Linked DNA regions of Homo sapiens. The protein of the gene in region 6 interacts with the protein of the main gene of each other region in a pairwise test. Each region holds a gene or a part of one and is shown on either strand. Other genes may lie near its edges. The genes, in order: MPHOSPH6, PPL, DISC1, ZDHHC17, MECOM, KNSTRN and MAPK6.

Region 1 (2,781 bases), on a different chromosome or scaffold from region 6:
TATCACACATGCCTCCTCCCACTCCGCCAAAAAAGAAAAGGAAAACTAACCTAGAATCTTTCAATAAACTCTGGCAATTGGCTTAGTTAACTGTGGCTCCTAGAGAAGTGGTTCTTAACTGGGGATGATTTTCCCCACCAGGGAACCTGTGAAAATGTCTGGAAACATTTTTGGTTGTCACAGCTGGGTAGGAGGGTGGGGTGTGTGTGTGCTACTGATATTTAGTTGGTAGAGAACAGAGGACAGGGATGTGGTTCGTCATTCTCTTAGGAAAGCCACCACCACAAAGAATTATCTGGCCCCAAATGTTAACACTGCCAAGGGCAAGAAACACTGGCTTCAAGTAATATTTACCAAACTAAAGATTTATATCTCATGTGTCCATTTGGTTCATCAAGTACTTGATAGGATGGCTTTTAACATATGAGCCAGAGTTCTAATGAATATTTGTTAAATAAAGGTCTGCTTCTCTATCCTGGAGCAGGAAAATTCAAATGAATAGCTCAGTTATAAGGCAAATATTCATTTTTCAAACAAACTGTCGAAAGGATTCATTTAAAAATCTACTTACAAGCTTGGATTACAACAGTCCATTAAAAAGTCAAATGACATAATTCTAAAGTAACATTTTTCCGTTAGAAAAAATACATGTATAGGTGCCAGAAAATAACTTTTCATAATAGCATGATATGAATAAAATCTTGACGTTCCTGTAAAAGACACAACTTGAAATTTTAATATTTATGGTGGCTCTGTCAAGGGCTGTATACTGCTATATGAAATTATCTACTCACCTCTACCATAAAACTAGACTGCAATGCCTCCAATTTCTTTAAATAGCTATGGCGATATTTCAAGACTTGTTATTTTCTATATAATGAGTAGAAATGGTACCTGGTGGAGAAACACCTAAGCCCAATTATTAGCAGAAAAAAATTCAATTGGAAAAATTTTTAATTTGAAGCAATTATATTTAATACCTCAACCTCAGGATTAAATCCTCTGAATGACATTCTTCCATAGAGAAGATCTTCACATAGTAAGAAACTCTGCTCTTCTATTATGAAACTCCTAAATGGGAAAATAAAAATAGCATTTCTCCATATATAAAGCACAGCAAACAAAAGCCAACACTTTGAATAAAAAAAATAATCAACCTATGGTTCTCAGTAGAATGAAGTAAAAATACAGTAAGATTTCTAACTTAGGGTTAAAAATAAAATCTGATTAATTTGGTCAGCAAAGGCATTAGGAGACAAGAGCAGCAAGCTAGAGGCACAGCCTCTCTTAAACACCACATTTAATTTGCATAAATATCTACATAATATAAAGATCTAAAGTATTGACAATAAACTTGAATTTGCCAAAGTTGAAGCAAAGTTTCTTTTGTGTTTACATCCCCTCACCATATTTTTTTCCAATTCTTTTTCAGAAAGGAAATAATATGTATGTAAAAATACACATACAGTATACAGTGACACACTACTCCAAATCATTTTAATAAAGTTTCTGGCATATTTTGTCTTTCGTTCTCAGGGATTTCAAAAATTCCATTCTCTAATTATCAAAGCAGCACATTTTAAGGAACGTAATTTGGAAAGCAGAATAAAGTATGAGTTTATAAACTGCCTGTAAGCTCCTTACCAAGAGGATAAAAAGGACTGTTAGTATATTTGAATATTTCCTTCCAGTCTTTTTTGTACTTGCATTTACGTTGATTCTTGAACACAGGTCTGAGCTGTGTGGTGCACTTATACACAGATTTTTTTCAAAAAATTTCAATAGTTTTTGGGGAACAGGTGGTTTTTTGGTTACATGGATAAGTTCTTTAGTGGTGACTTCTGAGATTTTGGCCCCCACCAAATTCTTATTACAAATCCAGGAGAAGTAGTGGGAAATCAGAGGCTTGAGCAGCTTTAACAGTGTTATCAGTCAGAGCTCTTAGCTATAAACACCAAAGGCTGACCCTGGATGACTTCAGCAGAGAAGGAATTTACTGTAAGAACACTGTAGGCTCTTCATTTCCAAGGGGGACTGGTTCCAGGACCCCTTGTAGATATCAAAATCTGTGACACAAAGAGCCAGCTGTACTGGGCATCTCAGAATCACCGGGAAGGCTGAAGGGGCAGAATTGGAAGACGGGCAGAAATAACGGTCGCTAGGTGGTTGCACCAGAACCAAAATCATGCTAGAGAATGACCCTAGGAAAACCACTGTTGCTGCTGACGGGGCTGAGCACGACACCACTGATGGCATTGGGGCAGGTTGCGTTCCCTGGACCAGGATGTTTCTGTCTGCAGCAGAATTTCTCTGCTGAGTCACCACCACATGACCGTAAATCCAAGGTGACATATCTATCTCCAGCCTGGCCATAAACCCTAAAGCATGGCAGGAAAGCAAACATGTGGCTTTTAAGGCTTGTTTGCCGGAGTAGGCTCTGATTCTCATAAAGATTCCCTTATGCAACAAACACTTATTAAACCAAACTGTGTGTATTAAATCAAACTGCGGAAACAGCCACCAGTAAAAGAGCCTCAGCTGGGCACAGTGGCGGATGCCTGTAGTCCCAGTTACTCAGGTGGCTGAGGCAGGAGAACTGCTCGCATCCCAGAAGTGGAAGTTGCAATGAGTCAAGATTGTGCCACTGCACTCCAGCCTGGGTGACAGTGTCAAACACTCACCTCCAAAAAAAAAGAAAAAAAAGGAGCCTCTGCTCTCCTGGAGGTTACAGTCTATAGAAAGAGGGGCCAAATAATGAATGAAACATGAAACATTTATATC
Region 2 (3,500 bases), on a different chromosome or scaffold from region 6:
CTTGGTAGCTCTTATCTCAGCAGCTATGTGACTCCGGGGTAGCCACATGTGGCTGTGTGGCTGCCTTCCCCCAGACACTGGTGCTACACGCGTGCTGAATGAATGAATGAATGAGAGTAAGCCATGGGGGACTGCTAAGATTCTCCCCTTCCCTCAGCATTTCAAGAGAGCATACATTGCCCTGCGCTTCACACCCCAGGACCAGCAGAGCCCGGAGGTGGGGATGAATGGGGCAGGGGTTCCAGCTAGTGGAAAGGAGTGCGAGGCCTGAGCAGGCTGCCCCCTGCCCTGTCCCCATCCAGTCACCTCCTGCGTGCAGGACGGTGAGCAGAGAGTTGGCTGAGTACACAGCTGGCAGCAATGCGGAGTGATAGTGAGATAAAGGAGGGCCCTGACCCAGCCACACAGGCTTCTTCAGGAGAGGTCCTCCACGCCGAACCCGGGGATCAGTTGGAGATGAGAGGATAAAGAGAGTGCAGTTGACAGAAGGTGACGGGGATGTGTGTATCCACGACCCGAAAAGGCATGACAGTGAGCAAGCAAAGCAAGTTGATGAAGGATGCAAAGATGATGCTTGCATATATACATTTTTAGAAACATACACAGAGCAATTCCACTTACTCTTCCTGAATGCAGATGTGTCTATGTATTGGAAAGCTTAGGGAACCAGGTGCAGTGGTTCGCACTTGTCCTAGCGCTTTGGGAGGCCAAGGCGGGAGGATGACTTGAGGCCAGGAGTTGAAGACGAGCCTGGGCAACATAGTGAGACCCTATTTCTACCAAAAAAAAAAAAAAATTAGCTGGGCATGGTGGTGCATGCCTCTAGTCTTAGCTACTCAGGAGGCTGAGAGGGGAGGATCCCTGAGTCCAGGAATTCAAGGCTGCAGTGAGCTGTGATTGTGCCACTGCACTCCAGCCTGGGCAACAGAGCAAGACCCTGTCTCTAAATAAATAAAATAAAACAGGCTTAGGAAGAACCAGTAAATCTAAAATTCTGCTACTCCTAAGAAGGGGCCTGAAAGGATAATGAACAATAACATTTCTCTTCCTTTTTAGAAAAATCTGCAGCAAAGATGGTACTGTGAAAACATCAACCAAACCGTGGTGGTGGGGACATGCGTGGCTGATTCTTTTCAGTACTTTTCTGCATGTCTGAGTAGATCACGAGTTTTCCAGTTTAGGTGAAGGGTGGAGTAGAGAAGGCGAGCTGGCGTGGGGCACAGCTGGCGGGGGGCACAGCGTGGGAAGAGCCTGCAGGCAAGCCCTGAGTCCTGGGTCTCAGAGTCCAGTCCATAGCAAAATAAAAGGTCTGGGAGAGGAAGAAGAGGGACCTCAGGAAGCAAAGGGGGCCCAGTCCTGGAAGGCAAGCAGGCAGGTTCTGGATGGGGAGACAAAAATGGAGAGTCTCTGCAAGGAAGTGAGAGGGGAGGGGACCAGAACTGGGAAAGGTATGAACACAGAAAGGCCTTGAGGTTGGGTGCTAGCTTAAAACCATCACCCTAAATTATGATTATTACATTGTCTGAGATAAATTCTACCCTCAGCTCTCGTTCCAAGTGAGGCTCAGAGAGTTTGAGTGACTCGCTCCAGGACTCTCGGCAGATCTTTTTTTTTTTTTTTTTTTTTTTTTTTTTTAAGGTAGAGTTTCACTTTTGTTGCCCAGGCTGGAGTGAAGTGACACAATCTCAGCTCACTGCAACCTCTCTGCCTCCTGGGTTCAAGTGATTCTCCTGCCTCAGCCTCCCAAGTAGCTGGGATTACAGGCGCCCACCACCACGCCTGGCTATATTTTGTATTTTTAGTAGAGACGGGGTTTCACCATGTTGGCCAGGCTGGTCGCAAACACCTGACCTCAGGTGATCCACCTGCCTCGGCTTCCTAAAGTGCTGGGATTACAGGCATGAGCCACTGCTCCCAGCCAAATAGAGTTTCTTATCTGAGATTGAAGCAGGGTTGAAGCCCTGTCTCTTCTTTGTGGTACAAACTTGGAATCCTTTCCCACCCTTCGATGGGAAACAAACCATCGCCATGGCGAAGGCAGAGAATTTGAAACCCTAAAAGGTATCAGCCTGAAATCCTAGCCCAGGCAGTGGGGGCAGCAAAAAATTCTGCAAGTTCTATTTCTCCCACAGCCCTGCGGCCTTGCAGGCTCAGCCAGCAGCTCTGGTGTGTTTTATCTTACAAAGCATGACAAAAACCCTCTGCCTAGGAAAGGATGGGCGGGGCGGCCAGGACACCCTGCCAGCCCTCTCAAAGTGTCTGGGTAAGAACTGCTGAGATGGCCGGGCACAGTGGCCCATGCCTGTAATCCCAACACTCTGGGAGGCCTAAGGTCAGGTGTTGGAGACCAGCCTGGCCAACATGGTGAAACCCTGTCCCTACTAAAAATACAAAATATATTTTGTGTTTGAGCCCAAGAGTTGAAGGCTGCAGTGAGTGAAGTGCAGCAATGCACTTCAGCCTGAATAACAGAGCAAGACTCTGTCTCAAAAAATGAAAAAGGAGGCTGGTGCTCTTTCTCCAGTGGTCCTGAACCCAGAGTGACATCCTGATGCCTTGGGGCACCAAAGTTGGCTTGAGCCCTGTTTATCCCCCGAGTCTAGGAATTCAAAGCTGCAGTGAGCTATGAATCCTCCCACCTCAGCCTCCTGAGCAGCCAGGACTAGAGGCATGCACAACCATGCCCAGCTAATTTTATTTATTTATTTATTTTTGGTAGAAATAGGGTCTTGCTGTGTTGCCCTGTCTTCAAGACCTGCCTTGGTGTTACCTGAAGCAGCTTGAACTTCTGTATGTTTGTAAAAGGAGCCCAAAAGCACTCACCTGACACAGAACCCTAGGCCCCATCAGAGGCCTGGAGGCAGGGCGGCCTTCCCTGGGCAGAAACAGATTAGGCCTTAAAAACAGACCTGGAATTACTACACCAGCAACCTTCTCATCTTAGGATATATTTCCACAGGATTAATAGCTGGGTGTGAGGACATTTACTGTCTAATTAGCACAGGAGTTTCTAGTAGTGAGAGAATCAGTCAATTGACCAATCAATCTGGTATTCATTGGGCACATTCTGTGTACTGCTTTCTCACAGGGCTTCCTTCCTATAGAGATCTAGGATTCTTCGGCATCTTGCTTCTTTTAAACCTTGCTGTGGTTCAGTTCCTTGTTCTCATCCCTGGCTGTACATTAGAATCACCTGAGGAGTTTTGAACAGCATGTCAGAGCCCTTTCCAAGACCAGTTAAGTCAAAATCTCCATGGACATGGGTCCAGACATCATTCTTTTGATGTGCAGCTGTTGGGAACCACATAGTTACATGGATTGCCTCGCTCCCTCTTGTCTTTGAGATATATGGACAGTGCTTTCTCTCTTCAGTATCAGTTGCCTGGTATGTCACTCTCCATTCTTTATTCTCAACCTTCCTGTATCATTTAGTTTCAAGTGTGTGTGTCTTATAAAATGGCATATAGCTTGGGGAAGGTGTGTGTTTTGTAATCTCACCG
Region 3 (3,500 bases), on a different chromosome or scaffold from region 6:
CTTTTTCTTTTTTTAAAATCTAAAAATTTTGATTGGAGAAGGATTAGAGACTAAATTGTTGATATTTGAATTTTATTGTGGTTTTGGTTAAAGTTTGATGCAGGACCTTCAGAGCAAAGAGAGGGTACAATGGTGACCTTTAAACAATATATATATTTTTTGAGACGGAGTCTCGTTCTGTCGCCAGGCTGGAGTGCAGTGGCACGATCTCGGCTCACTGCAACCTCTGCCTCCTGGGTTCAAGCGATTCTCCTGCCTCAGCCTCTCGAGTAGTGGGATTACAGGCGCCCACCACCACATCCAGCTAATTTTTGTATTTTTAATACAGACAGGGTTTCACCATGTTGATCAGCATGGTCTCGATCTCCTGACCTTGTAATCTGCCCGCCTCAGCCTCCCAAAGTGCTGGGATTACAGGCATGAGCCACTGCGCCGGGCCCTTTAAACAAGATTTAAAGACCAGCACACAAAGTTTCTGAGTACAAAAAAAGGTAATATTTTAGGTTAGGGTCATTAGACCAGAATTAGAATCATTCTTTTTTTTTCTTTTTTTAATTAAAAAAGATGGGGTCTCCTTATTTTGGCCAGATTGACCTTGAGCCTCAAGCAACTTCTGCCTCGACCTCCCAAAGTACCAGGATTACAGATGTGAACCATTGCACCTGGCCAGAATCATTCTTTTGATAATAATGATGGTAATTGAGTTTATATGCTGTGTTCTCATGAATCCAAGCAGAGCCCACTGTTTCCAGAGATTCCCTTGGCAGCCACCCTGGGTTGAGGAGGGTCCCCTCCTGGCACAGCTGGAACCACCGGTGAAGAGCCATTTTTCAGTCAGCACCGTTTAGTAATATAAGACTTTTAGCCTCGAGGAGTCTTCCGTTGTTAGTTCCTAACTTTAATGACTTTGTGGTAAAAATTCCTTAGCGAATGACTTCTGTGCAACAATCATGTAATTTTTAAAATTCCAGATGCTTTAGCCGTTCAGAATCCATTTTTTCTTTCAAAACCAGAGTTCACCAGCTGTTTCTCTTGAGCGAAGACTTTGCAATGAGCTTTCAAATGTTCACACCAAGTAGAAGCAGGAAGGGAGAACTGTGGCTGGGCAATGAATGAAATACTGACATTTAGCTGTAGAAGGTAGGCAGGGGCTCACATGGTGTGCACAGCCCCTTATATGACTACTGGTCCTGTATCTGCTTCCTTTCCCTGCCCCATTTCCCCTTTGGCTTTTTGTCATGACTCAGAAATGGATGCTAGACATTATGGGGCTCCCTCCAGTCACTCGGGTCACTCGTCACAGACTTATAAACAGAATCACAGAACTTATTGTCAGATGAAGCTTCAAAACACCAGTTGGCTAAACTCCTTGTGTTCTGGCAGGTAAGATGTCGGCATCCTTATTTAACAAATGATGCTACTGAGAACTATGTATGCAGAGACATAGTCTCAAAATAAGTGCAGTCATGCCTCGCATAATGACGTTTTGTCAATGTCACATATGTGAGAGTGGTCCCATAAGATTATACTGGGCTGTCAATTTCCTAATGCCTAGTATTTACTATACATTTTAATGTTATTTTGTGTACTTCTACTTAGTAAAAAAAAGTTAACTGTAAACCCGCCTCAGGCAGGTCCTTCAGGAGGTATCAGAAGAAGGCATTGTTGTCATAGGAGATGATGGCTCCATGCGTGTTTTTGCCTTGAAGGCCTTCCAACGGGACAAGGTGTGGAGGTGGAAGGCAGGGATAGTGATGATCCTGACCCTGGGTAGGCCCAGGCTAGTGTGTGTGTTTGTGTCTTAGTTTTTAACAAAAAGTTTGAAAAGTAAAAAAATAAAAATTAAAAATAGGAGCTTATAGGATAATAAGGATATAAAGAAAAAATATTTTTGTACAGCTGCACAATGTATTTGTGTTTTAAGCTGTGTTTTTATAAAAAAGTCAAAAAATTAAAAAAATTTAAAAATTATTATATATAAAGTAAAAAAAGTTATGGTACGCTAAAGATAATTTATTGTTGAGAAAAAAATTTAAATGAATTTAGTATAGCCTAAGTGTACAGCGTTTATAAATACAGTAGCATGAAATTATGTCCTCAACCCTCACGTGCACTCACCACTCACTCACTGACTCACCCAGAGCAACTTCCAGTCCTGCAAGCTCCATGCATGATAAGCCTCCTATAGAGGTGTACCATTTTTCATCTTTTATAGTGTATTTTTACTGTACCTTGTCTATGTTTAGATATGTTTAGATGGAAAAGTACTTACCATTGTGTTACGGCTGCCTACAGTATTCAGTACAGTAACATGCTGCACAGGTTTGTAGCCTAGGAACAGTAGCTATACAATATAGCTTAGGTGTGTCATAGCCTATACCATCTAGGTTTTTGTGAGTACACTCTATGGTGTTTGCATGACAAAATGACCTAATGACACATTTCTCAGAAAGTGTCCCTGTCAATAAGTGATGCATGACTGTGATTGAAATAAGTAGCCCCACATTATTTTTCTCATGTCAACTTCAGGTTAATTTTCCAGCCACGTGGCCTTGTGCTTGCTCATCATAAAAAAATGTGGATAAAATTCTACCTGTTAAGCCACAACATTTGCCTGTCATGGGTGGACATTTACCGTTTATTTTCAGAGTTCAAAGTTTGAACTCTCAGAGAAATGCAAATAAGACAGTAAACTCCTCGAGGTGAGGAATGGCAATCTCTGAAGATAAATCATATATTTATTGTACAGTATTGAATGTTGTAAGTGGCAGTAGAGATCATGTAATCTGGCCTTCTTCTTTTACAGGTGAGAAAAGTGAGAAACAGCAGCAGAGTGATTGTTAGAACCTGGCTCCTCTTCTTTTACTTAGAACTGTTTTCATTAAGTTGTGTTTCATTTCATAGTTCTGTATAATTCATCCCTGCTTAAGATACATTAAATGAATTGAACTGAATCCCTTTTTTTTGAGCTATGATGGCTCTTAAAAACTTAGATTTTCAGCCAGGCGCAGTGGCTCATGCCTGTAATTCCAGCAGTTTGGGAGGCCAAGGTGGGCAGATGACCTGAGGTCAGGAGTTCGAGACCATCCTGGCCAACATGGCAGAAACCCATCTCTACTTAAAATACAAAAATCAGCTGAGCATGGTGGCGTGTGCCTGTAATCCCAGCTACTTGGGAGGCTGAGGCTGGAGAATCGCTTGAACCTGGGAGGCAGAGGTTGCAGTGAGCCAAGATCATGTCACTGCACTCCAGCCTGGGCTACAGAGAGAGACTCCGTCAAAAAAACAAACAAACAAAAAACCACGTAGATTTTCAAGTAATTACTATTGTTACACTAAATGTCAATGGATCCTTAAGAATCTATTTGTTCATGAATTCATTATTTATTCATTCAACGTTTATTGAGTGGCTACTTGGTTCAGAATTAGAATTAGCATGACAGCCACACATTAGAAAGGTATCACTTTTTGACTAAATTAAAAACTTGCTAAAAATAGTT
Region 4 (3,500 bases), on a different chromosome or scaffold from region 6:
CTTGATTTTTCAGCTTTAGATAGTTTTCTTTGATTCATGGCTACTATAGATGAGGCTCTCAGCATATTTTCATTTCAACCTTTTTCCATTTTCCCATTTTGTTGTTAATTATATCAATTTTACATTGTCAGGGTATATAACATTTCCATTCAGTTTTGTCATTCTATTCTTCACAATCGTTTTGTTTTAGTTATATTGTTAAATATATTTAGTGCTCACTACCAATTCTTTTGGATGATTTTCAGGAGAAAAAGGGGAAAATGCTAAGTTATGGAGCCCTGTTGATCATGGAATTCCCATAAGCTTTTGATCTGGGCTTGTTAATTCTTCCTAATAGAGAATACCCATACGTCCAGGCTGAACTTGGAAAAGAAGTACCAAGTTTTAAATCCCGACCCAAAGAGAGAAAAGGTTGAATTTCATTTTTCTTTTAGTACTCTAGAGATGTGCCATGATTTTACATTTTTTTATTTATTGATATTTTTAATACTATCATTTTTTAAAAAGGATATGAAAACACAACTAAGAAGAAGGAGAAACTTAAACATAAGAATTTACATGCTTGCTTTAATTAGACCTGAAATTTGGTTGAGGTCCTACGGAAATTAGGAGTAAAAGAAGTCACAATAGTTACTTCTCATATAAGAAATAAGGAAGTTTGTTGTTTCTTCAGAAAACATATTTTTTTTAAGCCACAGGATTATTTTAAAAAATGTACTTGCATATTGGAAATGTTGAGTGAGGTTGCAGAAGATATTCCTGACAACACTATTAAAGTAAATCCAGAAATGGATTTGTAATGGATAAGGCATAACATTCTATGACAGTATGCATGGTGAGTGACTAAGTTAATGACATCCAAGGAAATGCTTTACTTATCTAATGTAGTGGTTCTCAGATTTTTTTTCTTCAATATGCTTAGATAATGTTCACATTTGAGACATATTCCTATTGCTAACAGTGGCTCACAGAGAACTGATGCATAGAGATAGTGTTTTACAGTGTGCTTACTGTAACTCTCTGCTCTCTCCACTGATTGGTGAATTAGGTAACACAACTTGGATTAGAACTGCTTGCTTAATGTAATTCAGGAATGGGAGATGGGGTAGAGAAGAAGAAGAAACTTAATATTTATTGAATATCCATTATGTTCTCAGCTGTTGACTAGATGCTTTGCACACATTATTTAATCTTCACAGAAGTCTTATGAAGTTATTTGTATTTCACATTTTTTAATGAGGAAGCTAAGACTAAGAATTAAAGTAATTTAGCCTACAATCTCATAGCAATTATATGATGGAGCTAGGAAGTCAAAACCATGTCTTATTCTAAAGCCAAGCCTAGAAAAGTAGATAGATAAGCATGTCTTTTCCTTTAATAAATGGTTTTCGATCATCTACTCTGCTGGGCACTGAGAATACGAAGATGGATTTGAGATGATTTTTATTTTCAAAGTACTCCAGGTTAATGAGACACACATTTCAGGCATAGAGGATAATCAGTTCAGAATGGAGTGGGTTAGGAAAGGTAGTTTCAGAGCATTGAAACTGATAAGAGTCCCTGATACATCAGAAAGTCTTGCGCAAGGAGAATTAGATAACTAGGAAAGAGTTTCGGTTTAATAGGTGGAAGTTTTAGTTATAATTTGCTAAAAACTAAGTAGTAGTGGGGGAAAGATGGTGCCAGGGAAAGCAAAAAATTGAGTAGAAGAGGAAAAATAGTGGTTTATTACATGGTTTGGCTGGGAATAGTATTTATGCATATTTATAATAATACATATCAAGTATTAAATGTTTATATGAACCAGAATTACAATAGATCTCTTGAGAGGAAAGAATAGGAAAGGCGTGCATTTGTGATGTAGCAGAGAGGAAAGAGAAAAATTCAGATTTTTTGTACCAAGGAATTTCAGAATAATGCCTGAAACTGAAAAATCAAGAAGTAGCAATTCAAACATCTTATTTAAAGATATGGAGGTAAATATAAAAATAATGAGCCAAAAAATGGTGAAAATGGTGGGAAGTAAGGCAGGGGGATTGCTTTAGTGTGTTGCTTTTTCCACACAAACTGCAGAATCATTTAACTCTAAAAATGTACATGTGTAACAGTAAAAACTGAGTATATTAAAATGTCAGTTCTTTTTATTTTTTGTTTTGAAATGCCTAGGAATAAACAGTTTTGTCGTTCTCTCTTATGCATTAGTATAAACAAGTTTTTCAGAAACTTAATCACTTAACCTATCCTTTGTGGTTGAAAGGTCAGAATAGGTTAAGAATTTTAAATGTGAAACATTGAAAGGCTGATTAAAACATCTTAAAAGGGAATAATGTAAAAGCATGATATATGTTCACTAGAGTATATAGTGACAAGAGTTTCATTTTAAAGTTAAGAAAGAAAGTTTCATACATTATCCTTGATTGAGTAGTATTATATTCGCTTCTCCTTTTATATATAGATTAGATTTTTCCAAGCAAATTTGGTTAGGAACTTATAATTTAACTGTCTGACTTTTTTTCTTTTTACTTTATCAGGATGTAGATATGATGGATCAGAATGGAATGACGCCTTTAATGTGGGCAGCATATAGAACACATAGGTATGTAATGACTATAAAAAACTTATTTAGGCCATTTCAGCATAATACAATATGAAGTAAGAGAGAGGAAAAAGCAGTTAATACTATACTCACTAATATTTACAGTTTTTATTATGACTATAGTATATATAAATTACCATTTTGGATGTTCTGGTATCTCTGTGCTGTCTCTCCCTCACTGATTAGAGCTTCCTTAATCTGTTTCTCTTTTAACAATATCTAAGAAAAGAAGTTATCTTTTTTTAAAAATTAATTAATTTTTTCATGTGATTTACATATTGACAAATTTATTAATTAGTAAGTTGTCTTAGATCACTTTTGGAAGACTCCAAATTTAAATTTTAAAAAGTGTTATTCTTGAATTGTATAAGTATTAATGCCATTTCTAGGTCAAAAATAGAAAATATCAGGACCAAGTTGCTTATCCCCTGAAACTATTAATATATTATTTTATATGGTGTCATACATACTTAATACTTCATATTAGAATATTGTCTCATTATTGATTTTAAAGTTGTTGAGTAGGTTAGAAGTGTTCCAAAATGGAATGCTACTGTAAGCATAATCAGTTTAGTATTTGTAATGATTTCTATAATTGAAATTAGGGTTGTTGTTGTTGTTTGTTTTTTTTTTTTTTCCTTTTCAGTGTGGATCCAACTAGATTGCTTTTAACATTCAATGTTTCAGTTAACCTTGGTGACAAGTATCACAAAAACACTGCTCTGCATTGGGCAGTGCTAGCAGGGAATACCACAGTCATTAGCCTTCTTCTGGAAGCTGGAGCTAATGTTGATGCCCAGAATATCAAGGTAAAAATATTCTATATTGATAATACTGTATGAAATGTGGCTAATATGTGAATTCTGTAATAAAACAAGTTTTTCATAGACTGTCAGAGTTGAAA
Region 5 (3,500 bases), on a different chromosome or scaffold from region 6:
CTTGCAGTGCATAGGCAAGGAAGGGGAAGATCATCCTGTAATCAGCATATCTAATATTGTCCTTTTAATACTGCACCAACCCCTGGACTGGAGTGTTCTGAGTCAACTCACAGCTTCGCCCAGCAAACCAGGATGCAGAATTTTCAGTGTGCCTTTAAACTGTATTTTGTTATATGCTTTAGCATAGTAGCCAAAAAATAAATAAATAAATAAAAAGGCATGTTGACTGCAACCAGGACTTCATATAGAGTGTCTCTTGGCAGAATCTATTTAAAACTTGTTCATAATTTGTCTCACTCTAAATTCTCATTATGTGAATACAAATATTCTCATGTCACAATAGAGGTAAGGAAAAGCTAGTGAGAGAAGCACCTTCTTTGCGAGACTGTACTTCATGATTTCAGTGGTTCAATATATTCCCAAAGGACCGTCATGGGCATGTGTATTATGGTAAACTGGGGAGACTTTGACTTTCTAAAGTTATTATTATTAATATTCATAGGGCATGTTTTAAGAAACAGCACTGATCAAATTCATAAGGAGTGAGTTTCCAAATAAGTTGCTAGATAAACAATAATCTTTGTCATAAAAGGCTTTCTGCTCCACACAGGTACAGCAACATCGTCGCCTCATTCTGAACTGGAAAGTACAGGTGCGATTCTGGATGACAAAGAAGATGCTTACTTCACAGAAATTCGAAATTTCATTGGGAACAGCAACCATGGCAGCCAATCTCCCAGGAATGTGGAGGAGAGGTAAAGCTGTCTTTTACTTTTTAAACTCTGTGACGACTGAAATGAACATGTTTTAAAATATACTTGCTATGCTCACTTTTGTGGCACTACTATTACTTCAGTCACCAAAGACTGGTATATATTTAGTACATATTAAATACCACATTAAATGCTTCCAAGCATTTTACATGTGTTAATTAATTTAATTTCATCATAACCCTATGAGATAGCCACTATAATTTTAGCAGTGAAGGAATGGAGACATTGAAGCTTAAACCATTGTGTCAGAGGTCACATAAGTAATCAATGGGATTCAACCTGAGCTCTCTGGTTCCAGAGCCCATAATTTTACCAGGATTTAGCTATCTGATAGCTGAATAGAATCTGTTATCAAAATTTCAGAAGTAGAAGAGAAAGCCGTCACAGGGATTCAGTTGAATCACTGATCAATAGTGGCTACTATTATACATCATAAATTATATATATTACAGGTAATATATGATTCTATATACCTGTATTATACATAAATACATATATGTATATTCTGTATATATGTAATATACATATTATAGTACATATGTATGTATGCATTTATATATGAAATACCCATGGAGTTTCCCCCAAATATATTTTACATAGAAGCTTTTATAGTCTTCTTAAGATTCTATTGCTACTTTATGTCCTCTTAAGTGACTACTCATTTAATTCTGGTCTGTTTGTTTCAGTGGGTATGAACATCCTTGTTTTTACTGCCCTGATGCACTGGCTCCCTTTTATCATCACCAACATTAAGCATGAATAGCTTAATTCATTTAAAAAAGCTTTTAATGCTGTTAATGATAATACTTAACAGTTACCCAGCACTTCACATTGCATATGAAGTTAATGAAACACTATTTCACCAAAACTACTGGATTTAATTTTTCTTATCTGTAAGCTATAATTAAATATCTATTGTTGAGAAGTAGACTTTTCTGAACACGACTATATAGTGACCTATTAAATTCAGATGCTACATTGTAAATTTCAAAATAACATGAAATTAGTTAAAAGTTCCATTATTTTTCATCATACAAGTATTATTGGATTAGTGTCCTCTGTTTTTGATGTTATCAAAAGTCAAAATTAATTATTTTATGTAATTTTTTCAAGGCAAACATCAAATAAACATTTTTTACTAAAATAACAAAAAAAATGACCACTTCTGTTTTTCAACTTGTATAAAAGTGTATCAAAGAAAAACAAGAAAAAAGACCCTTCCAGTCTCTGAGAAGTCTGATAACTACACCAGTGTGCAGTTGGATGTACCTTTCCCTTTACTTGCCCATTTGTGTGTGTGTGTGCGTGTCTGTCTGTCTGTTTGTGAAAGGGAGAGAGGAAGCAGATGATCAGAAGGACAAAGTAGCAAGAACAAGCAAGAAACAGTGACGATCTTATACTTTGATAATGATATTTACTTGATGCAAATAAGAACTGTTGAACAAAACACACCATTTGGGTTCTGAGATGCCTATTCAAATTTTCTAGCCTTTAATTGGCGATTTGTGAGCCTGTATAGTTGCAACATCTGGCTTCAGCATGTCTAAACAGCACAGAAATAAGAAGGTTGAGTCATCTAAGTTTTTCCCCTGAACTCCTACCAGGCTACTTTTGATGAATAATTTATTCTCTGTAAATTGCCACATTTGAAAACTTAATTAACAAATAGATTTTCTTAATTATGTTGGCTTTTGTTACTTTTGATTTTCATCCATGCACTCTTTTTGTTCTTTTACTTTTTCTTTCTTTTTTTTAAATAAAAATTTTAATCCACTCATGCAAGCAAGTTGGCAGTGTGTTTGGAAACTAATTTATGTCTGTGCAAAAGATGTTTTCACCATTCTTTGATAAAAGAGGTTAAGCGATTGTTTTTATTAAAAGCTTAATAATGATATGACTTTTTCTGGTCAAATGGATTTTTACTATGTGTGTTTGTCACATCCAAGATTGTTTTATTTATTTTTTAATCCTGGGAAATCTGAATATTAAATTATACTCATTTTTGTTATGTGGGAAAGTGATGGGGGTACATTGTAATACCTGAGCTTTTTCCACCCTGGCGTTTTCCTGAGAAACAAGGAACTATTTCACATTCAGACTGTAAAAAATAATTTGAAAATAGTACAAATAAGTGAGCTGTCAATTACTTCCAAATATGGGTAGAGTGGTTAGGTGGAATGTACCACAAATGTCATCTAGTATCAGTAAATACCAGTTGTTTCTTGGTAACTACTTTAACATTGTCTTTGGACTTTTAGAGTCACTTTAGGCATGTGTATTGTAGCTACGGCCCATGAGTGATATGAATTTTCCAGAAATCTATTATTTTAAATGGTGGGTACTTACATGGCAATTAGGTAAATTGTGCTGAGAACATACTTATGTGCCTTTTTATATGATATATATAGCAATATCAATTATCAAGCAAAGTCTGATAAGAAATGGGAGACCAAGATTGTTTTTCGGGTTCTGCCAGAGGCTTCATTTATAATCTGAACAATCATACAATTATTTTTTTCTTTATCTTCCCATTTGTGAAGTCACATTATTTTTTCATGGTTGACGTAGAGCATAAACAATAAAACATTTCCGATGTTAAGTGTTGAAAATCTAAACTGTTGTTGGGAAGACATAATAAAGGAACAAATTACAATTTTAAAAATGAAACCAACAATTGGACTTTTTTTTTAATGCTTTTGAAAGAATGAATGGCAGTCATTTTAAAGA
Region 6 (3,500 bases):
GAAAATCGCTTGAACCCGGGAGGCGGAGGTTGCAGTGAGCCGAGATCACGCCATTGCACTCCAGCCTGGGGGACAACAGTGAGACTTTATCTCCTTGCCCTCCTGGGCCCAAGTGGTCTTCTTGCCTCAGCCTCCTGAGCAGCTGGGACTACAGGTATGTACCACCACGCCTGGCTATTTTCTAAATTTTATTTTGTAGAGATGGGGTCTTGTTATGTTTCCCAGGCTGGTCTCAAACTCCTGGCTTCAAGTAATCCTTCCACCTCAGCCTCCCAAAGTGCTGGGATTATAGGCGTGAGCCACCATGCCTGGCTGATTTCTTAGTTTTGACAAATGTACCAGGATAATGTAAGATGTTACTATTGGGGGTGGAGGAGGAAGTGCATCAAGAAGAATAGCTAATGGATGCTGGGCTCAATACCTAGGTGATGGGATGATCTGTGCAGCTAACCACCATGGCACACGTTTACCTGTGTAACAAGCCTACACACCCTGTACGTGTACCCCTGAACTTAAAAGTTGGAAAAAAAAAAACACGTTACTATCAGGGTAAATTTTCTGTATTATCTTTGTAACTTTCCTATAAATCTAAAATTATTTAGAAAGTTTATTAAAAATAAATAGAAAAACAGAAAAGACCCCACTATAAATCTACCTATCATGGTAGGAAATGGTCAGGGTGATGTCTGCCTCTCACCTGTAACTCCTCCATCTGCTTTTTGGCTGTTTCGTTAAAAAGCTTCAGCTCCTCTTGCAAAGTTTCTAACAGCAACTAAGAGGAAAGCACAATGTAGTAAACAAATCTTCATATAAAACCAGACTTGCATTAGATGATGGCTAACATCCTTTCCACACAGTTCTCAACAAAGGAGTCAGGAGAGAAATTTGATAAAGTATAGAACAGAAGAACGAGAAAGCTCTCTCTACAGGTTTACCTATTATGTGTTTTAAATTTTCAATTCAGACTCACTTATATTTGTAAGCACAAAGCTACCTTTCAAGTAAAATATGCTATTTTGAGTACACATCCCATTTCTCTTTTCTAGCATCACAGATAATCAAAGGCTGTTTCTTGGAGTTTATGGAATATATAGCAGAGACCTTCTTAGATTTACAGAGCCCCACAGTCACTCAGCCCTTGCGCCCTTTCACACCCATGCCCTCACCATAGAGTCCATGTGATCAGTAGTGGATTCTTGTCGTGATGCCAGGGTCTCACTGCCTAAAGCTGATGGATACAACAAAGTCAATCTCACTTAGGGAACTACACACCCTAAACAAAAGAAAATAAAAACCCTCCGTGGACAAGTACAGAAATATTCATGAGGGGAATTTCTCTTAAGTGTCTCATCCTGGACTTTCTCCTAAGTTTTCACCTTGGCAGGGTCACCCATATCTGCCCTGCAAAACTGTATTTTATCTCCTTTCAATCTAGGTTTTGATATGGCCAAAAATTCGGTATACTTTCTCCTTAGGTCAGTGGACAATTTGTCCAAAGGAAATGTATAGGTTGGATTTTTTTTGGTTTTGTTCACAATTCACAAAGCTATTTTTAAGAGCCTTTCAGGCCTTAAAAAATTATTACTTTCGGTAATATCACATGCATGTAATAAACTAAAATCATACAAAATATTTATGGTGTCGGATGTGGTGGTGCACACCTGTAGTCCCAGCTATTTGGGAGGATTGCTTGAGCCCAGGAGTTGGAGGCCAGCCTGGGCAACATAGCGAGATCCCATCTCAAAAAAATAAACAATTTTAAATTTAAAAACATATATATTTATGGTGACTATAAAGAATATCCTAGGCTGGGCATGGTAACTCATGTCTGTAAACCCAGCACTCTGGGAGGCCGAGACAGGCAGATCACTTGAGGTCAGGAGTTTGAGACCAGCCTGACCAACATGGCAAAACCCCATCTCTACTAAAAATACAAAAATTAGCTGGGTGTGGTGGTACACGCCTGTAATCCCAGCTACTCAGGAGGCTGAGGCAGGAGAATCACTTGAACCCAGGAGGAGGAGGTTTCAGTGAGCCGAAATCACACCTCTGCACTTCAGCTTGGGCAATGGAATGAGACTTCATCTCAAAAAAAAAAAAAGAATATCCTCAACTGTAACCTAAAGATTAACCAGTAACATTCAAAGTCAGTATTCCTTAATACAAAAAGGCCTGGGCCCCTTTCCTGGGCATTCTCTGGCTCTTTGACTCAGTCTGAGGCCCTCTTACAGTCTTTGGGCAATTCCTTCTTCTGCTCTCTTTGCTACAGATACTGCTTTCTGGGGGACAGGGTCAGAATAGTAGTCATATTTTAGTCACTGTAATTCTGATGATTAACCAGGTTTAAGAATGCTTGAAATAGTATTTTCTTTCTCTTCCCATTTGGGATTACTAGTATGCTTGAAAGGAAGAGCATGTTCAAACAAAATGTTCCTTTCAAGCACACTAGTAACTTTCCCAAATAGGAAGAGACAGAAAATGTTCTCCCTTGAAAGGAACAAAGTGTTTCTCATCTATTTGCAAGGTCATACCTGTTGGCACTAAATGAATGGCATAAAGTGTTCAGGTAAGAAAGAGATAACCCTCTCTCTATAATCATCTGAAATCCTATTGGCCAGGCAAAAATCAACATCACATGAAAACAAACAGAAGCTTTCCAAAATCTTTAGGGCTTTATGAAAGTAACCCCTGCACATACTGGGCCAGCTGATGCCATGCTGCCAAGATCAACCCCGGAAGGGGCACATGCACCAATTCCTTCAAAGGAGGCTAGCTGTGTGCTGTCTCTTACCTGGATCAAGGCCCTTGCTCTCCAAAATTGCCAAACAGTTGTCCCGAAACTTCTCCAGCAGCTCTACCTTCTGGGTCAGGTCCTTCAGCTCTCCCTATTGGAGCACAGCACAGACAGATCAGGAATTGTCCAACTCCCTAGGGGTGGTTGCCCTTTCTTGCCCTTGCTCTTGGACAGCCATAGCAAAAGCCTGGCTTTTTTTTTCTGCCCTTGGGCATCTGTGCATTAACAAGCTTGCTCATCCAAGGGGCCACCCATCAGGATTCCATGTGGATCGCCCAGTGGCAGCTGGTAACAGAGCTCTGGTGGGTCTCTTACCTGAGTTTCAGTCAACTTCTGGTGCAACTGCTTGTTGACGGCTTCTAACAGCTGGTTCTTGTCCTTGAGCTCTTCCTCTGATTTTTGCTTACTCAGTGGTTTGTAGCTGTAATAATAGTTGTACTTACATGAAAAGATAAAAGGGTTAACAGTATGGCCCACACCAGGTGCGGTAGCTCATGCCTGTAATCCCAGCACTTTGGGAGGCTGAGGCAGGCAGATCACCTGAGGTCGGGAAATCAAGACCAGCCTGACCAAGATAAGAGAAACCCTGTCTCTACTAAAATTACAAAAGATTAGTCAGGCGTGGTGGCGCATGCCTGTAATCCCAGGTATTTGGGAGGCTGAGGCAGGATAATCGCTTGAACCCAGGAGGCGGAGGTTGTGGTGA
Region 7 (3,500 bases), about 12 Mb from region 6:
TTCATGCCATTCTCCTGCCTCAGCCTCCCAAGCAGCTGGGACTACAGGCGCCCGCCACCCGGCTAATTTTTTGTATTTTTAGTAGAGACAGGGTTTCACCATGTTAGCTAGGATGGTCTCGATCTCCTGACCTCGTGATCCGCCCGCCTCAGCCTCCCAAAGTGCTGGCATTACAGGCGTGAGCCACGGCGCCCAGCCCCAACTATTTAAAGGAATTAAAATTAAATAAAAAATTCAATTCCTCAAGTGCACTACTTGCTCGTCAAGTATTCAACAGTCACACATGGCCAATGGCTACCTCACTGGATAGCACAGAACACTTCTATCATCATAGAAAGTTCAACTGGGCAGTGATTAGCTTCCAAATTTTCCATTTGACTTTTTTCAGAAGGGCCAGTGGAAAGAGCAACTCAGAAGACTAACGAGCTGAGCAACCATGTATGCATCATTTTAATTTTTATTTATTTACGTATTTTTTGAGACAGGGTCTCTTGCTGTTGCCCAGGCTGGAACGCTGCGGTGCGATCACGGCTCACTGCAGCCTCAACCTCCTGGGCTCAAGCAATCCTCTCATCTCAGCCTCATAAGTAGCTGGGACTAAAGGTGTGCACCACTACAACAGGCTAATTTTATTTTATTTTGTAGAGACAGGGTCTCACTATGTTGCCCAGGTGTATGCATCGTTTAGCAGTGCTTCTCAAACTGAATGCGCACTGAATGACTTGAAAATCTTGTTAAAATGCAGGTTCTTCCCAGCACGTTAGGAGGCCAGGAGTTTGAGACGAGCATGGGCAACACAGTGAGACTCCAATTCTTAAAAAAAAAAAAAAAAAAAAAAAAGGCAGTGTATGATGGCACATGCCTGTAGTCCCAGCTACTGAGGTGAGAGGATTACTTGAGTCCAGGAGTTCCAGGTGGCAGTGCGTTATGATCACACCACTACACTCCAATCCAAACTGGGCAACAGGGCAAGATTGTGCCTCTTATTTACAAAAAAAGAAGGCCGGGCGCGGTGGCTCATACCTGTAATCCCAGCACTTTGGGAGTGCTGGGCGGGCGGGCGGATCCGAGGCGGGCGGATCACAAGGTCAGGAAATCGAGACCATCCTGGCTAACACGGTGAAACCCCGTCTCTACTAAAAACACAAAAAATTAGCCAGGCGCGGTGGCAGCAGCTGTAGTCCCAGCTACTCAGGAGGCTGAGGCAAGAGAATGGCGTGAACCCAGGAGGCGGAGCTTGCAGTGAGCCAAGATCGTGCCACTGCACTCTAGCCTGGGTGACAGAGTGAGACTCCGTCTCCAAAAAAAAAAAAAAAGAAAAAGAAAAAGTAGATTCTAAGATTCTAATTCAGTAGGACCGTAGGACTGAGATGAAGTCAAGATTCTAACGTCTATCAAGTTCCCAGGTGATGCTAATACTGTTGGTCCAGAAATCACACTTTCAGTACCAAGATCTTAGATCTCTTCAGGCCTTGGTTTCCTTAGCTGTCAAACGATGTACATGAATGAAGCAAGATAATGCCCATGACCCCTCCAAAACACTAATATTTTAAAGTTTTATGATTGTACAGAATTAAATGCATACAGATTTGCACTTTCTGCAGAGGCAGACTTTTCTGAGGTAAATGCTAGGATTCTAAAAAACAAGTTTTATGATACCATTTTTTTCTGTGAAAAAAATACCAAATTTAACGAAAATCAATGGGAAATTGTATTTGCTATACAAACATTCAATCTCTGAACAATTTTTTAGAAATGGACTTAGAAGACTGACATGTATAAAAGACAAAACTTTTAGAACTCTATTGGCTGGGCGCGGTGGCTCATGCCCGTAATCCCAGCACTTTGGGAGGCCCAGGCAGGCGGATCACAAGGTCAGGAGATGAGACCATCCTGGCCAACATAATGAAACCCTGTCTGTACTAAAAAAAATACAAAAATTAGCTGGTCATGGTGGTGCGCACCTGTAGTCCCAGCTACTCGGGAGGCTGAAGCTGAAGAATCGCTTGAACCTAGGAGGTGGAGGTTGCAGTGAGCCGAGATGGCGCGACTGCGCTCCAGCCTGGCAACAGAGGGAGACAGCGTCTCAAAAACAAAAAACAAACAAACAAAAAAACTCTTAGAGAGACACACATTATTTTCCAAATACGCAGTTCATGGAGGTGAAAAAACCAATCAATGCTGGACTAGGCCCAAATCACTGTCACCTTAAAAGCATCAGCTTCACATGAAAGCAACCCCTGGAAAATGCCATTAACTACAGTAACATTGGAGTTGTTTTTGTGAAGTCTCAGTCAAGGCTCTCAGCAATAAAAATGAGCAAAATTCCCACACCACTGGCAGGTTGTAGTGTAATGTTCAACAGCCCACAAAACAGGCTGAAGGAACTAATGAAGGCAGCCAACAATGCCACACAGAATTTACTTCTGAGGCATCTTCTTTCCATTTTAACAGGGGACCTAGAGTAACACAAGGTTCAAATGTAACAAAGAACTGGATAGCAGTGGTAAGAAGGCTCAGCATTTCATAAAGCAGTACCTTGGAGACAGGAAGCAGGCTAAGATATCCAGTTATTTTGTTTGTTTTTCGGTTTTTTTTTTTTTTTTTTTTTTGAGACGGAGTCTCGCTCTGTCACCCAGGCTGGAGTGCACTGGCACAATCTCGGCTCACTGCAACCTCTGCCTCCCGGGTTCAAGCGATTCTCCTGCCTCAGCCTCCTGAGTAGCTGGGATTACAGGCACGTGCCACCACACCCAGCTAATTTTTGTATTTTATTAGAGACGGGGTTTCACCATGTTGGCCAGGATGGTCTCGATTTCCTGACCTCGTGATCTGCCTCCTCAGCCTCCCAAAGTGCTGGGATTACAAGCGTTAGCCACTGCCCCCGGCCTCAGTTTGTTTTTAAACTCTGAATTATGCACTACAGCTAATTACCTATATTTGAAAACAATGCCGAAAATACGTTAAACCTCTAAGTAATGTGATGCTCTGAAAATTTTCAATACTTTTATATTTGTATTTTTATGTTTCCTCTAGTAGGAAATTTTTTTTAAGTTTGAATTAAACTTTGTAAAAAAAAAACCTCTAGGTATAAATCATGCAATACTCTTCCAAAATAGTTCCAAAAATTTAATTCACATTAACAATACATTTTATGGGCTGGGAGCAGGGGCTCACACCTGTAATCCCAACACTCTGGAAGGCTGAGGCAGGCAGATTGCTTGAGCCCAGGAGTTCAAGAACAGCCTGGGCAACACTGTGAACATTCATCTCTACAAAAAATACGAAAAACTAGCCAGGCATGGTCGCACACAGCTGTAGTCCCAGCTCCTCCGGAGGCTGAGGCAGGAAGATCACCTGAGCCCGGGAAGTAGAGGTTGCAGTGAACAGTGATCGCACCACTACACTCCAGCCAGGGTGACAGAGCAAGACCCTGTCTCACAAAAACAACAAACACTTTACTGTCCACAAACTCCTCAAATCCCTTTGGAAAAATAAAC

The links.
Region 1: the proteins of KNSTRN (region 6) and MPHOSPH6 interact in a two-hybrid assay, tested with the Homo sapiens proteins (one large-scale study listed by IntAct).
Region 2: the proteins of KNSTRN (region 6) and PPL interact in binary tests that used the Homo sapiens proteins (3 or more experiments, as listed by UniProt).
Region 3: the proteins of KNSTRN (region 6) and DISC1 interact in a two-hybrid assay, tested with the Homo sapiens proteins (one large-scale study listed by IntAct).
Region 4: the proteins of KNSTRN (region 6) and ZDHHC17 interact in a two-hybrid assay, tested with the Homo sapiens proteins (one large-scale study listed by BioGRID and IntAct).
Region 5: the proteins of KNSTRN (region 6) and MECOM interact in a two-hybrid assay, tested with the Homo sapiens proteins (one study listed by BioGRID).
Region 7: the proteins of KNSTRN (region 6) and MAPK6 interact in a two-hybrid assay, tested with the Homo sapiens proteins (one large-scale study listed by BioGRID and IntAct).

The regions. Positions count from the first base shown.
Region 1 is NC_000016.10:82,150,444-82,153,224, forward strand, and holds part of MPHOSPH6 (M-phase phosphoprotein 6), read right to left. Parts: intron 1,072-2,781; coding exon 981-1,071; intron 1-980. UniProt on the Homo sapiens protein: RNA-binding protein that associates with the RNA exosome complex. Involved in the 3'-processing of the 7S pre-RNA to the mature 5.8S rRNA and play a role in recruiting the RNA exosome complex to pre-rRNA; this function may include C1D.
Region 2 is NC_000016.10:4,927,149-4,930,648, reverse strand, and holds part of PPL (periplakin), read left to right. Parts: intron 1-3,500. UniProt on the Homo sapiens protein: Component of the cornified envelope of keratinocytes. May link the cornified envelope to desmosomes and intermediate filaments. May act as a localization signal in PKB/AKT-mediated signaling.
Region 3 is NC_000001.11:231,629,790-231,633,289, forward strand, and holds part of DISC1 (disrupted in schizophrenia 1 protein), read left to right. Parts: intron 1-3,500. UniProt on the Homo sapiens protein: Involved in the regulation of multiple aspects of embryonic and adult neurogenesis. Required for neural progenitor proliferation in the ventrical/subventrical zone during embryonic brain development and in the adult dentate gyrus of the hippocampus.
Region 4 is NC_000012.12:76,812,615-76,816,114, forward strand, and holds part of ZDHHC17 (palmitoyltransferase ZDHHC17), read left to right. Parts: intron 1-2,531; coding exon 2,532-2,596; intron 2,597-3,242; coding exon 3,243-3,405; intron 3,406-3,500. UniProt on the Homo sapiens protein: Palmitoyltransferase that catalyzes the addition of palmitate onto various protein substrates and is involved in a variety of cellular processes.
Region 5 is NC_000003.12:169,090,213-169,093,712, reverse strand, and holds part of MECOM (histone-lysine N-methyltransferase MECOM), read left to right. Parts: intron 1-610; coding exon 611-755; intron 756-3,476; coding exon 3,477-3,500.
Region 6 is NC_000015.10:40,389,221-40,392,720, reverse strand, and holds part of KNSTRN (small kinetochore-associated protein), read right to left. Parts: intron 3,216-3,500; coding exon 3,110-3,215; intron 2,886-3,109; coding exon 2,792-2,885; intron 1,229-2,791; coding exon 1,167-1,228; intron 773-1,166; coding exon 698-772; intron 1-697. UniProt on the Homo sapiens protein: Essential component of the mitotic spindle required for faithful chromosome segregation and progression into anaphase.
Region 7 is NC_000015.10:52,022,219-52,025,718, reverse strand, and holds part of MAPK6 (mitogen-activated protein kinase 6), read right to left. Parts: intron 1-3,500. UniProt on the Homo sapiens protein: Atypical MAPK protein. Phosphorylates microtubule-associated protein 2 (MAP2) and MAPKAPK5.